Homo sapiens: one gene and its partner. The protein of the gene in region 1 interacts with the protein of each later gene in a pairwise test. Each region holds a gene or a part of one and is shown in the gene's direction. Other genes may lie near its edges.

Region 1 (12,306 bases):
AACTTTAACCTATCCTTAGGAACAGTGTGGAGTAGGAAGCAAAACATTAACTCTGTCTACTCCAATCTTTTTGTAAAGGGTGCATGCCCCCAACTAAAACTCAATCCTGTAAGATAATGGTATAATCTTTTTGTAGCCCTTTTACTTGGGAAGATGTGTGATGATTTTGGATCAAGTCTGCTGGGTTGGAATCTTGTTTCCACAGGTTACTAGCTGTGCAACTTTGGCAGATTACTTAACCTCTGTCGGCTTCAGGCTCTTTAAGAGTGTTAAGGCTGGGCACGGTGGCTCACTCCTGTAATCCCAGCTCTTTGGGAGGCCGAGGCAGGCGGATCACCTGAGGTCGGAAGTTCGAGACCAGCCTGATCAACATGGAGAAACCCTGTCTCTACTAAAAATACAAAAATTATCTGGGCGTGGTGGCGCATGCTTGTAATCCCAGTTACTCAGGAGGCTGAGGCAGGAGAATCGCTTGAACCCGGGAGACAGAGGTTGTGGTGAGCCGAGATCGTGCCATTGCACTCCAGCCTGGGCAACAAGAGTGAAACTCTGTCTCAAAAAAAAAAAAAAGTGTCAATCATAATATCTACCACATAGGGTAGTTGTGAGGATTTTAGGGGTTAGTGAGAGTAAAGCACTTCACATGGTGCCAGGACCAGGCACTTTGTAGGAGCACAGTGCATATTAGCTATATATAGAATATGTGACTCTTCTGCTGTGGAGGTGTGGCAGAACATGTTATTTTATGGATTGAACATCCTGCACACCGTGGTACCCAAGTATTTGTTGGTGCTCCACTAAACAATTTCTTTTTTTTTTTGAGACGGAGTTTCGTTCTTTTTGCCCAGGCTGGAGTGCAATGGTGTGATCTCGGCTCACTGCAACCTCCGCCTCCCAGGCTTAGGTGATTCTTCTGCCTCAGCCTCCCAAGTAGCTGGGATTACAGGCATATGCCACCACACCTGGCTAATTTTGTATTTTTAATAGAGACGGGGTTTCACCATGTTGGCCAGGCTGGTCTCGAACTTCTGACCTCAGGTGATCTGCCCGCCTCAGCGTCTCAAAGTGCTGGGATTACAGGCGGAAGCCACCACACTGCCCTCCTTTGTTTGTTTGTTTTTTTTTTTTTTGAGATGGATTTTCGCTTTTGTTGCTCAGGCTGGAGTGTAGTGGCACAATCTCTGTTCACTGCAACCTCTGCCTCCCAGGTTCAAGCGATTCTCCTGCCTCAGCCTCCTGAGTAGCTGGGATTACAGGTGCGCACCACCACGCCTGGCCAATTTAGTATTTTTAGTAGAGGTGGTGTTTCATCATGTTGGTCAGGCTGCTCTTGAACTCCTGACCTCAGGTGATCCACCTGCCTCAGCCTCCCAAACTGCTGGGATTACAGGCATGAGCCACTGCGCCCAGCCTAGACTCTGACATTTTCATACTTTCAGGTAAAAATGTTTTCACATATAAGATGTTGAATAGTGTAAGTTGAGAAAATAAATGATTCTGAGTACAGCTTGAACACATACATGTATTAGCTCTGTGCACAGGTTTAAAATACCATTGGGCGGGGCGCGATGGCTCACGCCTATAATCCCAGCGCTTTGGGAGGCTGAGGTGGGTGGATCACGAGGTCAGGAGATCGAGACCATCCTGCCAAACATGGTGAAACTTCGTCTCTACTAAAAATACAAAAAATTAGCTGTCCGTGGTGGTGGGCGCTTGTAGTCCCAGCTGCTCGGGAGGCTGAGGCAGGGGAATGGCATGAACCCAGAAGGTGGCGGAGCTTGCAGTGAGCCGAGGTCGCACTACTGCACTTCAGCCTGGGCAACAGAGCGAGACTCTGTCTCAAAAAAAAAAAAAAAAAAATCTACCATTGCGTTTAACCAGTGCCGTTCAAAAGAAATAATGTGAGCCACATATATTACTTTTAATAGCCACTTTTTTTTTTTTTTTTTTTTAAGATATAGAGTCTTGTTCTGTTGCCTAGACTGGAGTGCAGTGGTGCAGTCTTGGCTCACTGCAACCTCCGCCTCCTAGGTTCAAGCAATTCTACTGCCTCAGCCTCCCAGGTACCTGGGATTATAGGCGTGTGCCACCATGCCCAACTAATTTTTGAATTTTTTAGTAGAGACAGGGTTTTACCATGTTGGCCAGGCTGGTCTTGAACTCCTGACGTCAGGTGATCCGCCCACCTTGGCCTCCCAAAATCCTGGGATTACAGGCATGAGCCACTGTACCTGGCCAAATAGTCACATTTTAAAAAGTAAAAAAATTTTTTTTCTTTTTGAGATGGAGTATCACTGTGTTGCCCAGGCTGGAGTGTAGTGGCGCGATCTGGGCTCACTGCAACCTCCACTTCCCAGATTCAAGCAATTCTCCCTGCCTCAGCCTCCCTAGTAGCTGGGATTACAGGTACCCACTACCACGCCCAGCTAATTTTTTTGTATTTTTAGTAGAGATGCGGTTTTGCCATGTTGGCCAGGCTGGTCAAGAACTCCTGACCTCAGGTGATCCACCCACCTCGGCCTCCCAAAGTTCTGGGATTACAGACGTGAGCCACCACACTTGGCCTAAAAAGTAAATTTTAATAATATATTTTAACTCATATCTAGAATGTTACTTTATTGTGTGATCAAGATTTAAAAATTGTTGAGGGCAGGCTCAGTGGCTCACACCTGTAATCCCAGCACTTTGGCAGGCCTAGGTGGGAGGATTGCTTGGGCCCAAGAGTTCAAGACCAGCCTGGGCAACATAGTGAGACCCTGTCTGTATGAAAAAAAAATTAAAATTGTTGAGATATTTCACATTCTTTTTCTCTGGTTTGTAAGCTATGCTTACAACTCATCTCAGATTAGGCGTATTTCTACATGGATGTATATTATGTAATGAAAAAATAAATTTTAAAGAGGCATATTTCAAGTGATTAATAGCTACATGTGGCTTGTAGCTACCATACTGGATGGTATGTGTCTAAACAATGTAAAGTAGCCAGTTGGTCAACGTGCAGATGACTAGAAATACTTTGAATGTAGACTACTTTCAGGAATGTGTTAAATGTTATTAAGTGATGAGGGTTTCTTGTTGTTGTTTAAAAGATTAAATCTCACTCTGTCACCCAACTTGGAGTGCAGTGGTGCAATCATAGCTCACTGTAGCCTCGAACTCCTGGGCTTAAGCAATCCTCCTTCCTCGGCCTCTCACGTAGCTGGGACTACAGGCGAGCACCATCGCGTCTGGCTGTGTTGTTTTTAAAATCTAGAGCATTCTCTATAAATGATTTATAGAGAATCTATAACATCCTGAGGACTGGGCGTGGTGGCTCAAACCTGTAATCCCAGCACTTTGGGAGGCTGAGTTGGGAAGTTCACTTGAAGTCAGGAGTTTGAGACCAGTCTGGGCAACATAGACCCCATCTCTGCAAAAACAAAAAATTAGCAGGACATGGTGGCATGTTCCTGTAGTTCTAGCTACAGGGGAGGCTGAGGTGGGAGGATCACTTGAGTCCAGGAGTTCAAAGGTGCAGTGAGCTCGGATCACACCACTGCACTCCAGCCTGGGTGACAGAGCGAGACCGTGTATGATAAAACAAAAACAGAAAACATCCAGAGGTTTGTATAGAAGTAGTTATCTTGCAGGTGTTCAGAAGGACCTGACTGCCAAAATAAGGCAGGCCCTCATTATTTCAGGTGCAGTCATTTAAGTTTCTTATTGGCTATGGTTTTTTGAAGAAATAATTTTTATAGATTTATAGGATGGTGTTCACAAAGACTACTGTATTTGAATTTTTCTATATATTTTCAATTCTCATACATCCGTATTAGAAATTATGTATTGTATTTATGGTCAGATTTATTGGAGACTGCTGCAAAAAACAAATTACTGGTATGGTACACTCAACCAATCTCAAAACGAATCCAAGGGCACCAGAATATAAGTTGCACAAAGGCAGAAATCTTTGTCTTTTTTTTTTTTCTCATGTGTGCTAAACACCTGGAAGGGTACCTGCATTTAATGGGTGCACCATAAATAATGAATGAAGGCAGGCAGGTAGGCAGACAGGTGGTACAATCAGGATCCCCTTAATATGAATTGGGGGTAGTTTATGTAAAATTTTTCCTTTTTACCTACTTTCTGATCATTATATGAAGTAGATTGGGATCAGACTTACCAATATTAGCTGTGGCCGGGCGCAGTGGCTCATGCCTGTAATCCCAGCACTTTGGGAGGCCAATGCAGGTGGATCACCAGAGGTCAGGAGTTTGAGACCAGCCTGGCCAACATGGTGAAACCCCGTCTCTACTAAAAATACAAAAATTAGCTAGGCATGGTGGTGTGTGCCTGTTGCCCCAGCTGCTTGGGAGGCTCTGAGGCAGGAGAATTGCTTAAACCCGGGAGGCGGAGGTTGCAGTGAGTTGAGCTCGTGCCACTGCACTCAAGCCTGGGTGACAAGAGTGAGACGCTGACTCAAAAAAAAAAAAAAAAAAAAAAAGAATGTTAGCTGTTTGGCTTAATAGGGCAAGACTGCTCTTAGAAATTGAAAGGTTGGGGCTGGGTTTGGTGGCTCACGCCTGTAATCCCAGCACTTTGGGAGACCGAGGCGGGCAGATCACCTAAGGTCAGAGTTCGAGACCAGCCTGGCCAACATGGTGAAACCCTGTCTCTACCAAAAATACAAAATTAGCTGGGCGTGGTGGCGCATGCCTGTAATCTCAGCTACTCTAGAGGCTGAGGCAGGAGAACCGCTTGAACCAGGGAGGCGGAGGTTGCGGTGAGCCGAGATCGTGCCATTGTAATCCAACCTGGGCAACAGGAGCAAAACTCTGTCTCAAAAAAAAAGAAAAGAAAAAGAGAAATTGAAAGGTTGTTTGAAAAATAGGCTTAAGAGAGTTACTGCTTTTGGATGAGAAGATTTCAGTGGTTGATTTGACCATAACCATCTTGGTAGTATGAGCTCAGGAATGCGTTACTTATTAGTGATGTGGGAATTACATGGATTTGTCCCCAAAGCACAAGCTTTTAGTGGGCTGCTTCTATACTGGATGTGCTACCTTTTGGTGTCATTAATCCTTTCTCCACCACAGGCTTACTCATTTTTTAACAGGGAATATTTTTCACTGGGAATTGGAGTCTCTCGGCTCCATGTAAGAAATCAAGTTGGTAAAGGCTCTTGTCCCTAAGAGAGGTATAATACATACATTTTGTTGTCAGGATGATTTTGCTAAGTTTTGGAAGAGTAGGTTGGTTCCACTAACCTGCATTTAAGAAATGATTGATTAGGCTGGGTGCTGTGGCTCACACCTGTATTTCCAACACTTTGGGAGGCTGAGGCAGGAGGATAGCTTGAGCTCAGGAGTTCGAGACCAGCCTGGGCAACTTAGCGAGACCCCATCTCTACAAAAAAAAGCTTTTAAATAAAAAATTAGCTGGGTGCGGTGGTGTACACCTGTAGTCCCAGCTACTCAGGAGGCTGAGATGGGAGGATCACTTGAGCCCAGGAGTTTGAAGCTGCAGTGAGCTATGATTGTACCATCTCACTCCAGCCTGGATGACAGAGTGAGATTCTGTCTTAAACAAAAAACCCCAAAAGACCATCCAGAGTGCTTGTCTCGGTAGCATATATACTAAAATTGGAAGGATATGGAGAAGATTAGTATGGTCCCTGCGCAAGGATGACACGCAAATTTGTGAATTGTTTCATAATTACTATTTAAAAAAAAAAAACCTCTGTAGGTATTTCTCCAAAGAAGCTAAGCAGATGCCCAATAAACATATGGAAAGATGTTCAGCATCACTAATAATTAGGGAAATGCAAATCAAAACCACAGTGAGATGTTACTTTGCGACCATTTAGGATAGTTATAACAACAACAACAAACGACAAAAGCAAGTGATGAGGTTGTAGAGAAATTGGAACCTTGGTGCATTGCTGGTGGGAATGTGAAATGGTGCAGCCACAGTGAGAAACAATAGGGTGGTTTCTCAAAAAATTAAAAATGAAATTACCATATGATCTAGTGATCTCACTTCGAGTTATATCCAGGATAATTTAAATCAAAGATTCAAACAGGGCCAGGCAAGGTGGCTTATGCCCGTAAATCCCAGCACTTTAGGAGGCCAGATTACTTGGGCTCAGGAGTTCAAGACCAGCCTGGGCAACATGGTGAGATCCTGTCTCTACCAAGAAACCCCCCAAAATTAGCTGTACATGTTGGCGCATGCCTGTAGTACCAGCTGCTTGGGAGGCTGAGGTGAGAGGATCACTTGAACCCGGGAAGCGGAGGTTGCAGTGAGCTGATGATCATGCCACTGTACTCCAGCCTGGATGACAGAGCAAGACCCTGTCTCAAAACAAACAACAACAAAAAAGACTCAAACAGCTATTTGTACACCAGCATTCATAGTAGCATTATGCACGATAGCTGAAAGGTGGAAACAACTCACATGTTCATCAGTGGATAAATGGATAAACAAAATGTGGTATACACATAGAATGGAATATTATTCAGCCTTAAAAGGGAGGGAAATTCTAACATGCTACCACATGGATACGCCTTGAAAATAGTTTACTAAGTAAAATGAGTTGGACACAAAAGGACAAATAATGTGTGAGGTACCTATAGTAGACAAAATTAGTGGAATAGTGGTTACTGGGGCCTGGGGGACAGAGTAATGGGGAGTTATTGCTTAATGATCACAGAGTTTTAGTTTGGAAGGATGAAAAAGTTCCAGAGAGGAATAGTGTTGATGGTTGTATAACAGTGTGAATTAATTTAATGCCAATGAATTGTACACTTAAAAATGTTTGAAATGCATGAAAAGACAAATACTATGTGATTTCATTTATATGAATATGAGGCTATCTAAAGTCAAATTCATAGAAACAGAAATAATGGTGATTACCAGGGGCTGGGGAAGAGGGAAATAGGAAGGTGTTTAATGAGTATAAAACAACGCATTACAGTTTTGCAGAATGAAAAGGCTCTGGAGATCTGTTGCACAATGGTGTGATACACTTAACACCTACTGAACTGTACACATTAAAAATGGTTAAGATGGCAAATTTAATGTTATGTTTTAGAAAATGGTTTAAATGGTAAATGTTTTAGATATATTTTCCCCACCGCTCAACAAAACCCAAAAAACTAACACTCGACCCAGTTCTCTAAAAGAGCATTTGATCACAGACGGCCCCTCCTGTTCCAGGTGTTAGCTACTGTTAACCAGTGGTTGTGAATCAAGAGGATCCTTTATGGTACTTTCCCATGCTTTAATATCACTGGTCTGTACTTTCAGTTGTTGAAGGCAGATTTGTCTTTTTGTTGTCTGTATTTGCATAGACCTTCTTGGAATGTTAGAATCACAGAATGTTAGTGCAGGAATGAACCCTTAAATGAATTTTCAAAGTGGGAAAACTGAGACTGGTGAGGTGAAGTAACTTCCAGAAGGCCAAAAGGCCACATGGCTAATTAGTTTTTTTTTTTTTTTGAGATAGAGTTTCACTTTTGTTCCCGAGGCTGGAGTGCAGTTGCGTCATCTTGGCACACTGCAACCTCCACCTCCCGGGTTCAGATGATTCTCCTGCCTCAACCTCCCGAGTAGCTGGGATTACAGGCATGAGCCACCACTGCTGGCTAATTTTTGTATTTTTAGCAGAGACAGGGTTTCGCCCTGTTGACCAGGCTGGTCTCAAACTCCTGACCTCAGGTGATCCACCTGCCTCGGCCTCCCAAAGTGCTGGGATTACAGGTGTAAGCCATTGCGCCCCGCCAGGAGTTTTTATTAGAATCCACAGCCAATCTTATTCATAACCACATTGCTCATTCTGAGAATTTCATTGTTATGTTAAAAAAAATCAGTGATAGTTTTCCTGCTCATCAATTTCAATTTGAAAAGTAGAGTTGCTGTGGTTTTGTTTTTGTTTTTTTTTTTTGGAGGGGCACGAATAGGTAAGTAACAAGTCTTAGAATAAAATATCAAGGATTTTGTTCGGGTTACTTGTCCTTTGCCATCTTAGCGCATAATAGAGAAGAGCCGATGATGTTTCTTTTCAAGAATTGTGGTGTATAATGACGCACAAGCATGGCAAAGGAAATACTGGTATTCTCGTTTTGTTTGCAAAAGGGAGAGGCTAATAAGAGAAATACTGGCAATCTCTTTCAACTTTTTTTTTTTTTTTTTTTGAGACAGAGTCTCGTTCTGTCGCCCAGGCTGGAGTGCAGTGGCACAATCTCGGCTCACTGCAAGCTCCGCCTCCCGGGTTCACGCCATTCTCCTGCCTCAGCCTCCTGAGTAGCTGGGACTACAGGCGCCCGCCACCACGCCCAGCTAATTTTTTGTATTTTTAGTAGAGGCGGGGTTTCACTGTGTTAGCCAGGATGGTCTCGATCTCCTGACCTCATGATCCGCCCGCCTCTGCCTCCCAAAGTGCTGGGATTACAGGCGTGAGCCACCGCGCCCGGCCGTCTAACAGTAGAAGGTTGCCCAGGCAGAGCTGTGGTAGCAGTTGTGAAGAACGAAGGAGTAGGAGCTTGTTGAGTGTTGATTTACAAGTAAGAGACCATTATTTAGCACAAAATATAAATTGTATGATTAGCTGAAGAGATTTGCCTGGGAAAACTGTTTATTGAGATGGTTAAGTCATAAAGGAGGAGTTTCATTTTTATTTGATTTGATTTTTGTAGAGACAGGGTCTTGCTGTGTTGCCCAGACTGGATCAAATTCCTGGGCTCAAGCAGTCTTCCTGCCTCAGCCTCTAAAGCCACCAAGGCCAGCTTTTTAAAACTTTATTTTATATATAAAAAAAGAGTTTAAAGGATTACAAAGGATGTTGAGGTTAACAGGACATCTGAACCCAGAAGACTAAAAGTCTTGTAAAGGTCATAGAGGTGGGTCCTTCAAATAGATGAATAATTGAGGGTTTATGAAATTAGTTCATTAAATTTGGACTGTAAGAAAAGGAATTTGAGGCCCGGTGCGGTGGCTCACGCCTGTAATCCCAGCACTTTGGGAGGCCAAGGCCGGTGGATCACCTGAGGTCGGGAGTTCGAGACCAGCCTGACCAACATGGAGAAACCCTGTTTCTACTAAAAATACAAAAATTAGCTGGGCATGGTGGCGCATGCCTGTAGTCCCAGCTACTCGGGAGGCTGAGGCAGGAGAATTGCTTGAATCTAGGAGGCAGAGGTTGTGGTGAGCCGAGATCACGTCATTGCACTCCAGCCTAGGCAACAAGAGTGAAACTCCGTCTCAAAGAAAAAAAAAAAAGAAAAGGAATTTGAAAAGTTGATTAAAATGAAATTTTAGTGAAGAAAACTCAGTCTTAAGGGAAATCTGAAATGAGAAAAACGTTTTTATTTGAAGACAGTGCAGTGTATTTTGGGTTGCAAGCATAAGTGATTGCTTGATGTTTATTCTTCTTTCCAGAGCTGAAAAATAATATTTTTGAGGAAAACAGCAACTATTAATGGAATGCTACATTTCTTTTTTTTATTTATTATTTACTGTTGATTAAAAAAAATTAATAGAGATGGGGTCTCGCCATGTTACCCAGGCTGGTTTCGAACTCCTAGGCTCAATCAGTACTCCTGCCTCAGCCTCCCAGAGTGCTGGGATTTATAGGTGGGAGCCACCACGCCTGGCCTAGAATGCTGTGTTTCACATACGACCCAGAAACAGAGCTTCCAAGGTTTAAAACATTAGAAAATGGAAAAACCATTATTCTGGAGACCCAAAAAGTACATCATATCAAAATTAGAACAAAGGACAGTGTTGATTTGTTTCTTTCGTATAATTAGCAATGCTTCTGTACAGACTTTTTTTAAGTTGAAATTTTTATTAAGATAATTGTAATTTCTCATGCAGTTGTAAAAGGTAATACAAAGGGATCTCTTGTATACTTTGCCCAGTTTCTTCCAATGGTAGCAGTTTTGGGAAATTTTTATAACATCACAACCAGAATATTGACATCTGGTGTAGTACACCAGCCTTATTAAAATTCCCCAGTTTTATTTTTATTCATTTGTGTGTATATGAAATTTGGTACAATTTTGTCATTCATAGGTTCATGTATCCACCACCATAGTCAATATACAACAGTTCCAAGGAACAAGGACCCTTCATGTTCTTTTGTAATTATAGCCTCCCGATATTTCTACACTCCAAACCTTGGTAACTATGAAACTGTCCTCCATTTCTAAAATTTTGTCATTTTACAAATGTTGTATAAATGGAATCATATAGAATGTAACCTTTTGGGATTGGCTCCCCCCCACCCCCCAACTCAGCATAATTCCCTGGAGATTAATCCAAGTTGTGTGTATCATTTGTTTTGTTTGTTTGTTTGTTTGTTTTTTTATTGAGACAGAGTCTTGTTCTGTCGCCTAGGCTGGAGTGCAGTGGCACAATCTCGGCTCACTGCAACCTCTGCCTCCCAGGTTCAAGTGATTCTCCTCGCCTCAGCCTCCTGAGTAGCTGGGATTACAGGCACCCACCACCATGCCCAGCTAATTTTTGTATTTTTAGTAGAGATGGGGTTTGACTACATTGGCCGGGCTGGTCTTGAACGCCTGACCTCAGGTGATCTGCCTTGCCTGCCTCGGCCTCCCAAAGTGTTGGGATTACAGGTGTGAGCCACCATGCCTGGCCTGTTTTTTTTTTTTTTTTTTGAGACAGAGTCTCACTTTGTTGCCCAGGCTGGAGTGCAGTCGCACAATCTTGGCTCACTGCAACCCCTGCCTCCTGTGTTCAAACGATTCTCCTGCCACAGCCTCCCAAGTAGCTGGGACTACAGGCATGCACCACCACACCCAGCTAATTTTTTTGTATTTTTAGTGGAGACGAGGTTTCACCATGTTGACCAGACTGGTCTTGAACTCCTGACCTCAGGTGATCTGCCGGCCTCGGCCTTGGCCTCCCAAAGTGTTGGGATTACAGGCGTGAGCCACCGTGCCGGGCCCATTAGTTTTTTTTTTTTTTTTTTTAAATTGTTGAGTAGTATACTTCATGGTATGTACCAGTTTGTTTAATCTTTACCCATTGACCGACATCTGGGCTGATTCTAGTTTTTAGCTAATATGAATAAAGCTGCTAGGAATATTTTGTGTACAGGTTGTGTGATCATAAATTTTTGTTTCTTTGGAATAAACACCCAAAACTGCAATTGTTGGGTCACATAGTAATTGCATGTTTCGTTTTATAAGAAACTGCCAGACTGTTTCCAGAATGGCTATACCATTTTACACCCCCATCCTCAGCAGTGTATGAGTGCACTTTCTCTGCATCCTCACCAGCATTTGATAATGTTATCATACTATTTTGTACTGTAGTCATTCTGATAAGTGTGTAGTGATAATCTCATTGTGGTTTTTAATTTGCATTTTCCTGATTGCCAAAGGTGTTGAAAAGTCCTTTTATGTGCTTATTTGCCATCTTTGGAAAAATGTCTGTTCATGTGGTTGCCAATTTTCTAATTGGATTGTTTTTTAACTGTTGAGTTTAGAGAATTCTTTGTACATTTAAAATTCTAGTCTTGACCAGGTGCAGTGGCTCACACCTGTAATCCCAGCACTTTGGGAGGCCTAGGTGGGTGAGTTGTTTGAGACTAGCTTGGGCAACATGGCGAAACCCTATCTCTACAAAAAAGAAAAAAATTAGCTGGATGTGGTGGTGTGCACCTGTAGTTTCAGCTATCTGAGAGACTGAGATGGGAGGATCAGCTGAGGCCAGGGAGGTTGAGGCTGCAGTGAGCTGTGATCACTCCAGCCTGGGCGACAGTGAGACTCTATCTCAATACAATAAAATAAAATTCTAGTCCTTTGTTGGATATGTGGTTTACAGATATTTTCTTCCAGTCTGTAGCTTGTCTTTTCATCCTCTTCACATGGGCTTTCACAGGGCAAACATTTGGAACTTTGATGCGGTCCAATTTATAAATCATGCTTTTGGACTTTCCTCTCTTTTTGTGGATCATGCTTTTGGTATTTAGGAACTCTGTCCATCATAGATCCCAAATATTTTCTTCTGTGTTTTCCTAAAAGTTTTATAGTTTTATATTTTACACCCTATTTTGAGTTATTTTTGTATATGGTGGGGGGTTTAGATGGAGGTCGACTTTTTTTTTTTTTTTTTGCTTGTGGAAGGGATGTCTGATTGCTCCCGTACCATTTATTTAATATGAAGGCCTTTTCCCCTCTCCTAATTTCATATAGTTAATCAGATGATGTAGGAGTTCTCAAGATTTCAGAGATTCTGTATGACCTGACAGGAATGAAAATGGACTTAGTGGTTGACTCTTGCCGTAATTTACACTGCGCT
Region 2 (12,306 bases), on another chromosome or scaffold:
CTGCTGTGCTGTCTTCCACAGAAGTGACTGAGAGCTGAGAGGCTGGGGAACTGGGGAACCAGAGTTGCAGGGGCTACAAAGTGACTCGGTTCTGAGTGAGGTCACTGGGCATTCCCATGCAAGGACCTCCCTTGCAGGTAGCTGGGCCTCCCCTTCTGCAGAGATGAGATAGGCCTAGAGAGGGGAAGCAAGGAGCTCAAGATCACACAGCAGACAAACTGAACAGCTGGGTTGAGAATCCAGGTGTCCTGAATCCAACGCTGGATTCCTGCTGTCCCTGGGTCTGAGTAGAGCCCATTTCAGCCCCTCCCTCCTGCCTCTGCTGTCGGTCTAGACAGTTCTGGCCCAACTCTTTTTTTTTTTTTTTTGATACAGAGTTTTGCTCTTGTTGCCTAGGCTGGAGTGCGATGGCGCGATCTCGGCTTACTGCAACCTCTGCCCTCGGGGTTCAAGTGATTCTCCTGCTTCAGCCTCCTGAGTAGCTGGGATTACAGGCATGCACCAACATGTCCGGCTAATTTTTGTATTTTTAGTAGAGATGGGGTTTCGCCACTTTGGCCAGGCTGGTCTCAAACTCCTGACCTCAGGCGATCCACCTGCCTCGGCCTCCCAAAGTGGTAGGATTACAGGCATGAGCCACTGCGCCCGGCCCTGGCCCAACTCTTTAAAGTGTTTTATGAAGTCAGAGGTTTCTTTTCTTTTCTTTCTTTTTTTTTTTTGAAATGGAGTTTCACTCTTCTTGCCCAGGCTGGAGTGCAATGGCGCGGTCTCAGCTCACTGCAACCTCTACCTCCCGGGTTCAAGCGATTCTCCTGTTTTAGCCTCCCAAGTAGCTGGGATTACAGGCACCCGCCACCACACCCGGCTAATTTTTGTAGTTTTAGTAGAGACGGGGTTTCACCATGTTGGCCAGGCTGGTCTCGAATTCCTGACCTCAGGTGATCCACCCACCTCAGCCTCCCAAAGTGCTGGGATTACAGGCATGAGCCACTGCACCCAGCCATCTTTTCTTTCATTATATATATATATGTATATATATACATGCATATACATATATATGTACATATATTATGTGTATATATGCGTGCGCGCACACACACACACACGCACATATATGTGTATTTTTTTTGAGACAGGGTTTTACTCTGTTGTGTTGCCTAGGCTGGAGTGCAGTGGCATGATCACAGCTCAATGCGTCCTCAACCTTCCTGGGCTGCGGTGATCCTCCTATCTCAGCCTACTGAGAAGCTGGGACTACTGGTGCATGCAACCACACCCAGCTAACTTTTATATTTTTTGTAGAGGTGGAGTATCACCATGTTACCCAGGTTGGTCTTGAACTCCTAAGCTCAAGGGATCTACCCTTCTCGGCCTCCCAAAGTGCTGGGATTACAGGCATGAGCCACTATGCCCAGCCATAAATAAATAACTTTAGGAAAAAAAGAAAAAATAGCCGGGTGAAGTGGCTCATGCCTGTAATCCCAGCACTTTGGGAGGCCGAGGCAGGTGGATTGCTGTTGAGACCAGACTGGGCAACATAGCAAGAACCTGTCTCTACCAAAATAAAAATAAAAAAATTAACCAGGCATAGTGGTGGCACACCTGTAGTCCTAGCTACATGGGAGGTTGAGATGGGAGGTTTGCTTGAGGCCAGGAGTTTGAGGCTGCGGTGAGCTATGATCACGCCAGTGCACTGCAGCCTGGGCAACAGAGCGAGACCCCATCCCTAAACAGAAAAAATAAACAAGAAAATTTAGAACATGGCAAAAGCAGAAAAATTAAAATAATGTCTTATACCCCTTCCCCCTGATGTAACACTAGGGATTAAAATAATTGAACAAATAACATTATGTATATTTTAATAGAAAACAAAATGAAAGTATTTCCAGACCCCAGAGGCTCTGGTGAGAGGCAGTCTAAGGTTGGGGTTAAGAGCATGGACTCAAAATTTTCACTCTGCCATTTCCTCTTTGGGTGACCATGGGTCAGTTATTTAACCACTCTGCCTCAGTTTCCCTTTTGCAGTGAGGATAGGAATAACACCCATCTCACAGGGTTGACTTGAGGAGTAAATGAGGAAATGTATAAACCAGTGTTTGGCACCTATTTAGATTAGTATTCTTTTTTTTTTTTTTTTTTGAGACAGAGTCTCGCTGTGTCATCCAGGCTGGAGCTCAGTGGCACAACCTTGGCAGACTGCAGCCTCTGCCTCCCATGTTCAAGCGATTCTCATGCCTCAGTCTCCCAAGTAGCTGGGATTACAGGTGCGCACCACCACGCCTGGCTTAATTTTTGTATTTTTAGTAGAGATAGGGTTTCACTATGATGGCCGGTCTGGTCTGGGATTTCTGACCTCAAGTGATCCACCCACCTTGGCCTCCCAAAGTGCTGGGATTACAGGTGTGAGCCACTGCGCCCAGCCAAGATTAGTATTCTTACTACTTCTTATTTCACTGATTAGCGTTTAGCTGGATTCCTTAGAATCGCAATTCAGCCTTAGCCTGCGGCCTTCCTTGTGGCCAAACCTGAATCTCTCTCTACTGAGCTCATCTCTGGGACTCTGCGGGGTGGGTGGGGTGTGGGCAGCTGTTGGTGGTACGCAGCTCATTCGTTGGCCCTCTCTGGGCAGCCTGGTGGGCAGGGGCAGCCCTGGTGGGCACAGCTTACCGTGCTGAGTGTGGGCATGGGCACTCCCTCGCCCTGCAGGGATTCTCATTGATAAAGGTACAGTTTGTGGCAGACAGTCCTTTGTTATGCTGCCTGTATTTTCAGCCTCGCAATGTATTTTCATACCTTCTCTAATAAATCTGCCTTTTGTAATAAAAAAGAAAAGGTACAGTTTGTGCCTTTCATACAACTTGGCCCCTAAATGCAAACCATTTTTATCCCATCTGCTGCTTAAGCAAAGGAAACAGTGATGTGTTCCAACTCTGGAGGCAAAGCTGGCTGTTCGACTCCCCCAGATGGTCCTGTACTGTACTTTCTGGGCGAGTGGAGGCATTTCAAGAGTGACTTTGACTAGCCTTGACTTTTTACCAGACTGGGTAAGTTTGGAGCCTGCCCCTGGCTGAGATGTCGTGGTGCTGTGCTGAGTGTTCAGCTGTGCCACCACGCTCAGTGGGTGCCAGTGACCCCGGGCACAACAGACAGACCCCCACCCTGGAGGAGCTGCAGCCTGCTCAGGGAGCCAGGGCAGGAGTGAAGGAAGCCGAGTGGCTGTGGGAAATCAGAAAGGGGTTGGGGAGTAATGTCAGGATGAAGTCCAGCTTCTTCATGTGGCTTCTAAGGGCCTCTCCCCAGTCAGCTGGAGCCACTCCTGGCACCAACCATAGTGTTATTGAATTTATTTCTTTTTTTGAGACAGAGTCTTGCTCGGTTGCCCAGGCTGGAGTGCAGTGGCGCGATCTCAACTCACTGTAACCTCCACCTCCCAGGTTCGAGCGATTCTCCTGCCTTAGCCTTCCGAGTGGCTGAGTGGCTGTGATTATAGGCGCGCACCACCATGTCCAGCTGATTTTTGTATTTTTAGTAGAGATGGTGTTTCACTATGTTGGCCAGGCTGGTCTTGAACTCCTGACCTCAAATGATCCACCCACCTCAGCCTCCCAAAGTGCTGGGATTATAGACGTGAGCCACTGTGCCCGGCCTGAGGAGCTGAGTCTTAGAGGAACCCAGGGTGGGTGGGTTTGTTCTGGTGAGGGGGTGTGCAGGCCGGGTTCTGGCCCCCAATACCCACTTGGGGATAGGCAGGACAGCTCCTTGTCAACCCCAAGGAGGCAGCGCCTTTCCTGAGCTGTCAGGGCAGCACCATATGGTTCCTTTCTTTTCCTTTCCTTCACCTCCTCTACCCTGGTGGCAGGGAAGCTGCTGGTGTAGCCACACGCGGGTGCTGTGTTCTGTGATCGTACTGTTGCGCCATTGTTCGGATTGGCTCTGTGCAGTAGGAGTCACTCTCCCCATTTGATGGAGGTTCAGTGAGGTTCATGGCTTGCCCTCAGCACTTGGCTTAAAACTGGAAGCGTCCCCGGGCCCGTGTGAAGCGGGAGCCAGCTCCTGTCCCACTGCATTAGGTGGTCTGCCTTTAGGTGATGGCTACAGGTCTCAAATCTTCAGCCAGGTTGGGACCTCCTGGGACTCCAGGATCTCCACCTGCTTCAGGACCCCTTTCTCATCTCTTGGCAGCTGGTGTCTCGCCACCCAGAAAGGGCCTTGCACCCTGTTCCCCGCCGTCTGTAGCACCCACTCCAGTGGAACCAGAAGATGTGGCTCAGGTAGGCAGATACCTGGAGAGGTGGGAGGGCCAGGGGTGGAGGGGGCGAGTTATGTGGACGACTATCATTGCAGTGACTGGGTCATGTGAGGAAGTTAGCCCTGACAGTGTTCAGAGGGTGCTTGTTCTCTGTCCCTGCCCTATTGGCTTTGGGAACAGGTGTCCCTGACTGGGGCAGTGAGGCATGGGTCAGGAGGCCAGTCCCGTTCTATGGGCAGGGAGCCCTACCTCCTTCTCCAGGACTCAGGTGGGGTCAGGAGATGCCAGCTCTGGCAAGGGGAGAGAGGGCAGTCCACAATGCTGACTTCACCATCATGGGACTGTCAGGAGTTACACACGTAGTAAAGCAAAGATTCCCCTTGATTCCTGTGGAGACAGCTGTAAACTTCCCGGCTTGATTTCCTTTAATCCTCTCAACAACCCAGGGAGGTCAGCATTATGGGCCCTGGTATACAGATGAGGAAACTGAGGCTCAGTGAGGTTTAGTCATTTGTCCAAGGTTACTTAGTAAGGAAGTGGGGGCCAACTGCCAGTCACCTGTTTGAAGGGCTTAGAGGAAGTGACACCAGCCCTTCACATCTGGACGGCACCTTACAGTGTGTAAAGGGCCTTCCCCTCCTGCTCCCATCTGCTCTTTGCTGGAGGGAGCTAGCCCCAGGGTGGGTGCTCCATGAGGGTACATGGGGCTGAGGCTGGCAGGGGTTATACAGTTTCATTCTGCAGGTGGGACCCAAGCCCACACTTGAGCAGCTTGCTCAGGTTCACTGTGCTTGGATGTAGAGAAACTGGGATTTAAATCCGTGGCAGTTCTAGGAGAGAACAGAAAAGGCAGCTGAGGTCGGCCTGGGAGGACAGGAACCTGTCAGGGGGGCTCCCCCGCAAAGGGGAGGAGGAGGGGGCAGGAGCCGCCAAGGGGAAGGGGCTGCACAGCCAGGAGCTGCCTTCCTTTGGGGAGGGAAGCCTCAGAAACCGGAAGTCAGGATTTTCGTGTTTCCGCACTGGCTCAGTGACCTTGAACAAGGCTTTCCTCCGTTCTGGGCTTTGGCTTCCTCACCTGGGAGACAGTGGCAGCCTCCTGCCCTCTGCCCCTCCTGGGGCCCTGATGAAGTCCATTTCCACCACGAAGCCTGGTGCACACTTGAGTGACGGTGGCCGTTGGAGGGAGGGAGAGGGCAGTGATGTGAACAGGATGGCTGGTGACCATGTCCTGCTCCCAACCTCCCCCACCTCGTTCTCTGCAGGGCGAGGAGCTCTCCTCAGGCAGCCTGTCAGAGCAGGGCACCGGCCAGACCCCCAGCAGCACGTGCGCAGCCTGCCAGCAGCATGTGCACTTGGTGCAGCGCTACCTGGCTGACGGCAGGCTGTACCATCGCCACTGCTTCCGGTGAGTGGCCAGGGCCGCGTGTTACCCCCGAAACCAGGGAGGGGGCTACCGTGGGTTCAGCACACACAGTGCGCCAGGCACCTTGCCAGGCCCTTCACACCAGAGCCCCTGGCTTATCCCCATTTTACTGATGAGCAAACCAAGGCTTAGTGAGGGGAAAAGCAGTTGCTCAGCCACATGATTCGAGACAGAAACAGGGTTAGAGCACAGGGGTTTTCCTTCCAGCGCCTACGCTTTTTGAGGATAACTACTGGATGAGGATGAAGGAGCACTTTAAAAGCCACGTGTACTTTAAAAGCCATTGAAAATTAGCCGGGCATGGTGGTGCACACCTCTAATCCCAGCTACTCGAGAGGCTGAGGCAGGAGAATCGCTCAAACCCGGGAGGCAGAGGTTACAGGAAGCCGAGATCGTGCTACTGCATTCCAGCCTGGGTGACAGAGCGAGACTCTGTCTCAAAAAAAAAAAAAAAAAAAAGGCCATTGAAAAAATAAAATGAAATATTTTAGCTTAAAAAATTTTTTTTTGGCCGGGTATGGTGGCTCACGCCTGTAATCCCAGCACTTTGGGAGGCCGAGACAGGTGGATCACCCTGAGGTCAGGAGTTTGAGACCAGCCTGATCAACGTGGTGAAACCTCATCTCTACTAAAAATACAAAAATTAGCTGGGTGTGGTCGTGGGCACCTGTAATCCCGGCTACTCGGGAAGCTGAGGCAGGAATCACTTGAAGCCAGGAGGTGGAGGTTGCAGTGAGCTGAGATCGCACCTTTGCACTCCAGCCTGGGCGACAGAACGAGACTCTGTCTCAAAAAAAAAATCTTTTTTTCTTTTAAGATGGGTCTACTATGTTGCCCAGGCTGGTCTCAACCTCCTTGGCTCAAGTGATCTTCCTGTCTTACCCTCCCAAGTAATCGGGACTACAGGCATGTGCTACCATGTTCTGCTTGAAGTTTTAAAAAATTACAGTAACAACTTGCTTTAAGTATGTGGCTTCCAAGGGAAGCCAGATTTTAAGAGAGTGGTATAAGCAGCAAGGAAAGTAAAAAAACTTAGAAAATTCATGGAAACATTTTATATGTTTCAAAAATGAAACCAAAAGAGGAAATTGAACAGTCAAGGAAGCCGGGAGTGGCAGCACGCACTTGATCTGGTTGAGTGTGCCCCTGAGTGGGGGGCAGCTGGTGCTGGAACCCTGGAACCTGACCGCAGAATTGGGGTGTCATGGGGAAAAATCTCGAGGAGGAAACAGACTCTACCAACACAGTCACATCTGGCTACCAGGGCAGTGTTTTAGAAACTTTTTACAGGCCGGAGCTGGGTGTGGTGGTGGCTCATGCCTATAATCCCAGCACTTTCGGAGGCTGAGGCTGGAGGATCGCTTGAGGCCCAGAGTTTAAGACTAGCCTGGGCAACATAATGAGACTTCATCTCTACAAAAAAATTAAAAAAAAAAAAAATTAGGCCAGGCGCAATGGCTCATGTCTGTAATCCCAGCACTTTGGGAGGCCGAGGCGGGTGGATCACGAGGTCAGGAGATCGAAGCCATCCTGGCTAACACGGTGAAACCCCGTCTCTACTAAAAATACAAAAAAAATTAGCCGGGCATGGTGGTGGCAGGCGCCTGTAGTCCCAGCTACTCGGGAGGCTGAGGCAGGAGAATGGTGTGAACCTGGGAGGCAGAGCTTGCAGTGAGCCGAGATCACGCCACTGCACTCCGGCCTGGGCGACAGACTGAGACTCCGTCTCAAAAAAAAAAAAATTAGCCTAGTGTAGTGGCACGCACCTGTAGTCTTAGGCATTTGGGAGGCTGAGGCAGGAGGATCACTTGAGCCCAGGAGTTTGAGGCTGCAGTGAGTTATGACTGCACTACTGCACTCCAACCTGGGTGACAGTGAGACCCTGCCTCAAAAATAAAAAGAAACTTTTTATAGCAACTCCTAGTAAAAAATACACTTGACACTGTGACTAGATGTAAATATTTACCTGAAATAAAACTGTGTAAGTAGAGGCACAGCTGGAGTAAGAGTTTCACAAAGCACTATTTGGCCTTTCTTGTATGATACTGTCTTATACATTGTATCTTATTCTATTTCATTAACAAAACACAGCCGGAAGTAGTGGCTCACACCTGTAATCCCAGCACTTTGGGAGGCCTATGCAGGTGGATCACTTGAGGTTGGGAGTTTGAGACCAGCCTGGCCGACTTGGTGAAACTCCGTCTCTACTAAAAATGCCAAAAAAAAATTAGCCAGGTGTGGTGGCAGATGCCTGTAATCCCAGCCACTCGGAAGGCTGAGGCAGGAGAATCTCTTGAACCCGAGAGGCGGAGGTTGCAGTGAGCCAAGGTCGCACCATTGCACTCCAGCCTGGACAACAAGAGTGAGACTCCATCTCAAAAAAACAAAACAAAACAAAATGAAAACAAAACACAAAACAACACCTGATTGGGTAAAAACCACTGCTTTATTTTCCTGAGCCACTACTGGATGCAGCCACTCACTGGATGCCACCTCTCAGGGGGACCTTTGCTTCTTCCTCTTGCAGCATAAACTGAAGGCATTTTTCACAATTTCTGTTGCTGAGTTCGTGTGATTTGGTGATTTTATTGTTCCACTATGCTTCTGACAGTTACTGTTTTCTTTATCCTCTGGGAAGTCTAGGGTATGGAGTCGAGCTTGGCTGGCAGTTGGGAGGAGGGAAGGGAGGAGACAGCCCTGGGTGCGGCTGGAGGGGTAGCCAGTGCCTGGGCCCAGCTGCCTGGCTAAGTGAACCCCTGTCCTGTCCCCTGCCAGGTGTCGGCGGTGCTCCAGCACCCTGCTCCCTGGGGCTTATGAGAATGGGCCTGAGGAGGGCACCTTTGTGTGTGCAGAACACTGTGCCAGGCTGGGCCCGGGGACACGGTCGGGGACCAGGCCTGGGCCCTTCTCACAGCCAAAGCAGCAGCACCAGCAGCAACTCGCAGAAGATGCCAAGGATGTTCCAGGAGGCGGCCCCAGCTCCAGTGCTCCTGCAGGGGCTGAGGCCGATGGACCCAAGGCCAGCCCTGAGGCCCGGCCGCAGATCCCTACCAAGCCCCGGGTTCCTGGCAAACTACAGGAGCTGGCCAGCCCCCCTGCGGGCCGCCCCACCCCTGCCCCCAGGAAGGCCTCTGAGAGCACCACCCCAGCACCCCCCACGCCCCGGCCCCGCTCCAGTCTGCAGCAGGAGAACCTGGTGGAGCAGGCTGGCAGCAGCAGCCTGGTGAACGGTGAGCAGGGTGCAGTCAGGGCAGGGGGCACCGGGTGGCAGTGCACTGTCTATTGAAAAGTCTGTGTGTCTGGGAGTGTTGGTGGGCCCCTCTCCATCTGTGCCATTGTGTGCTGTGCTGTGTTGGGGCCTGCCTGTGTTTTTGAGGTTATTATATATATATATATATATATATATTTTTTTTTTTTTTTTTTTTTTTTTGAGATGGAGTTTTGCTCTTGTCCCCCAGGCTGGAGTGCAGTGGCTTGACCTCGGCTCACTGCAACTTCCACCTCCCGGGTTCAAGCGATTCTCCTGCCTCAGCCTCCTGAGTAGCTGGGATTACAGGCATGCGCCACCATGCCCAGCTAATTTTGTTTTGTTTTTTTTTGTTTTTTTTTTTTTTTTTTTTTAGTAGAGACGGGGTTTCTCCATGTTGGTCAAGCTGGTGTTGAACTCCCTACCTCAGGTGATCTGCCTGCCTCGGCCTCCCAAAGTGCTGGGATTACAGGCGTGAGCCACTGTGCCCAGCCTATTATTATTATTTTTGAGATGGAATCCCACTCTGTCACCCAGGTTGGAGTGCAGTGGTGCGATCTCGGCTCACTGCAACCTTTGCCTCCCGGCTTCAATCAGTTATCCTGCCTCAGCCTCTTGAGTAGCTGGGATTACAGGCTACCACAGCCTGGCTAATTTTTGTATTTTTAGTAAAGATGAGGTTTCACCATGTTGGCCAGGCTGGTCTCAAACTCCCGACCTCAGGTGATCTGCCCACCTCAGCCTCTCAAAGTGCTGGGAGTACAGGCATGAGCCACTGTGCCGGGCTCTTTTTATTTTTTTTGAGACGGAATCTCACTCTGTCATCCAGGTGGAGTGCAATGGCACAATCTCGGCTCACTGCAATCTCTGCCTTCCAGGTTCAAGCGATTCTCCTGCCTCAGCCTTCCAAGTAGCTGGGACTACAGGTGCACACCACTATGTCTGGCTAATTTTTGTATTTTTGGGTAGAGATGGGTTTTCACCATGTTGGCCAGGCTGGTCTCGAACTCCTGACTTCAGGTGATCTGCCCGCCTTGGCCTCACAAAGTGCTGGGATTAAGGCCTGAGCCACCATGCCTGGCCTGTTTCTGAGGATATTAATTCCTGCCCCAAATGCCGAGTTCCTGCAGCCTCTGCCGTGCTCTGTTCTCCATGCTGGGACGGTGCAAACAATACAGACCCAGGCCCCGCCCTTACACTGCCTCCCTCTGCATGCGCTCTTTTGCATCTGTTCTTGTGGGCTTTAGTTTCAGGGTGTGTAGTAAGTGCCACTCTGCATGTGCCCGTGTGTCCCCGAGCTCTCTGGGACTCTGCACATTGGTGTCCTTCCTGTGTGTCCTGGCCCATCCACAGGCACACTGCAGGTGACCTCCATGCCCAGCCTCTATGCTTGTCTATGTCTAGAAGGGGAGAGCTCAGGGGCTTGGGGGAGAGCAGAGGGGTCAGGTGGGCCCCGGAGCCAGTGTGAGCTGCAGTGGAGACCCCTGGCCCATTCTGTGGGTGCATTCTCCCCCAACCCCACATTGTAGAATGCTCCCAGATGACCTCCCTGGGTTTCCGTGAGCTTGTAGGATTGAGACTCCTTGTATAAGGCTGCTGGGCAGCCCTTATCATTCCATTAGGGAAGGCATTGGTGGCCACGGGGAGAGAGACTCCCAGGGTCACCCTGCGACTTGCACCAGAACATTCTATTTGTTCAGCTCTTGTGGAGGCTGGATCTGAGCTGACCGCTGGGGACACAGATTACTGTTCAGGCCTATCTGTGCCTTCAGGGTGCTCCCAGTGTTGAGGTGGAGACAGGCACAGATGCAAGGGTTTCAGTGGATTGTGGAAGTCTTGCTAAGTTGGAAGGAGGGGAGCAGGGGCTGCTGTGGGATTCACAGAGGACACTTGGGAGTCCAGGACTTCCAGGAGGAGGTGGCTCCCAGGCTGACTTGAGATGATGTTTTCTGCCCACACTGGCGGGGGGTGTCTGAGGGGATTTGGGTTTCTTCTCAAATGAAATGCAAACGGGGTCTCAGGTGGCCTGGCCTTGACCCCTGACTGTTCTCAGGCACCTGGGTGCTTATCTAATCTCCATGGGCTGGCCTGGGGAGGTGCGAGGGTGCCAGGAGGAAGGCGGGGCGCTCCTGGGGAGGCAGGTGCTGTGGCTGGCTCCCTGGGTGCCCACCTCCTGCTGCCCATGAAGGCCTGGCTCACTCTCCTTTCCCATCTAGGGAGACTGCACGAACTGCCTGTCCCCAAGCCGAGGGGGACACCGAAGCCGTCCGAGGGGTATGTCGATCCCTGAGGGGCTTTCCTGCTTTGGAGGTCCTGGTGGTGGGAATCAGGGTACTCTGGGGCCGGGTAGGGAGAGAGGCTTCCTGTGGATGGGCAGGGCGGGGCTCAGGAGGGGAAGGAGAGCTGGGCCCACACCCCTTCTCCTGAGGCTCACCCCGGGATTCCTGCGGCCAGTGCCTGGCCCCCTCCCCAGGTCCCTGCTCCTGTGGGCAGTGCCCGGTGCAGGCAGCCACCTCTGGTACCCGTTGCCTCTCCAGGCTCCTTTGCCCTGTAACATGGGAGGCCGAGGCTTGATTATAGAGTTGATTTGAGGCTTAGCAGCAGAGTATAGAAAGACCTGGAAAAGCTCAGCTGTAGTACCAGTCCCTCAGGTCCTGCAGCACGGGACCCTGCTTCACGTGGAGGACATCTACTTCAGCTGTTATTTGAGGGCCATGCTTCCCCCATGTGGTCGGTCTGTAGGGAGCCAGGTGGGCCATGGCTGTGCCAGTTGTTAACGTTTACTGAGTCCCTGGCACTGAGCAGGTGCCCCAGTGCCCCGCCCAGTGCTGCACTCCATAGCTCACTGCATCCTTACACCAACCCTGTGAGGCAAGGATTATTAAGGTCCCCATTGAGTGGAAAGGGAGACTAATACAGAGGGAGGGCAGGTGACTTTCCCAGGGTACATGGATTGTAGGTGGCAGAGCCCCTGGTCGATCCTTTCCTGGGCTGGGTTAACAGCAGCTCTGTGACTTGAAGGTTCACATTCTCTGGGCCTCAAAGGCTGTGACTGTAACATTCCATTTCAGACTGTCCCCATGGGGATGGGGGTGGGAGAAGGGAAACAGCCGTTTCTCATCCACCCCCTTTGAAGTAGAGTCAAAACTGTCTAGAGAGAGAAGGAAGCTGACCCTTGCCTCTGCTAATGGTTTCTGCTGCTTCCCCCCTCCTCCAGGACACCAGCCCCCAGGAAGGACCCCCCATGGATCACGCTGGTGCAGGCAGAACCAAAGAAGAAGCCAGCCCCACTTCCCCCAAGCAGCAGCCCGGGGCCACCAAGCCAGGACAGCAGGCAGGTGGAGAATGGAGGCACCGAGGAGGTGGCCCAGCCGAGCCCAACGGCCA

What was found.
Region 2: the proteins of RAB10 (region 1) and MICALL1 interact in a two-hybrid assay, tested with the Homo sapiens proteins (one study listed by IntAct).

Annotation. Positions count from the first base shown.
Region 1 is NC_000002.12:26,037,084-26,049,389, forward strand, and holds part of RAB10 (ras-related protein Rab-10), read left to right. Parts: intron 1-12,306. UniProt on the Homo sapiens protein: The small GTPases Rab are key regulators of intracellular membrane trafficking, from the formation of transport vesicles to their fusion with membranes.
Region 2 is NC_000022.11:37,913,525-37,925,830, forward strand, and holds part of MICALL1 (MICAL-like protein 1), read left to right. Parts: intron 1-4,182; coding exon 4,183-4,271; intron 4,272-5,511; coding exon 5,512-5,654; intron 5,655-8,447; coding exon 8,448-8,902; intron 8,903-11,135; coding exon 11,136-11,193; intron 11,194-12,136; coding exon 12,137-12,306. UniProt on the Homo sapiens protein: Lipid-binding protein with higher affinity for phosphatidic acid, a lipid enriched in recycling endosome membranes. On endosome membranes, acts as a downstream effector of Rab proteins recruiting cytosolic proteins to regulate membrane tubulation.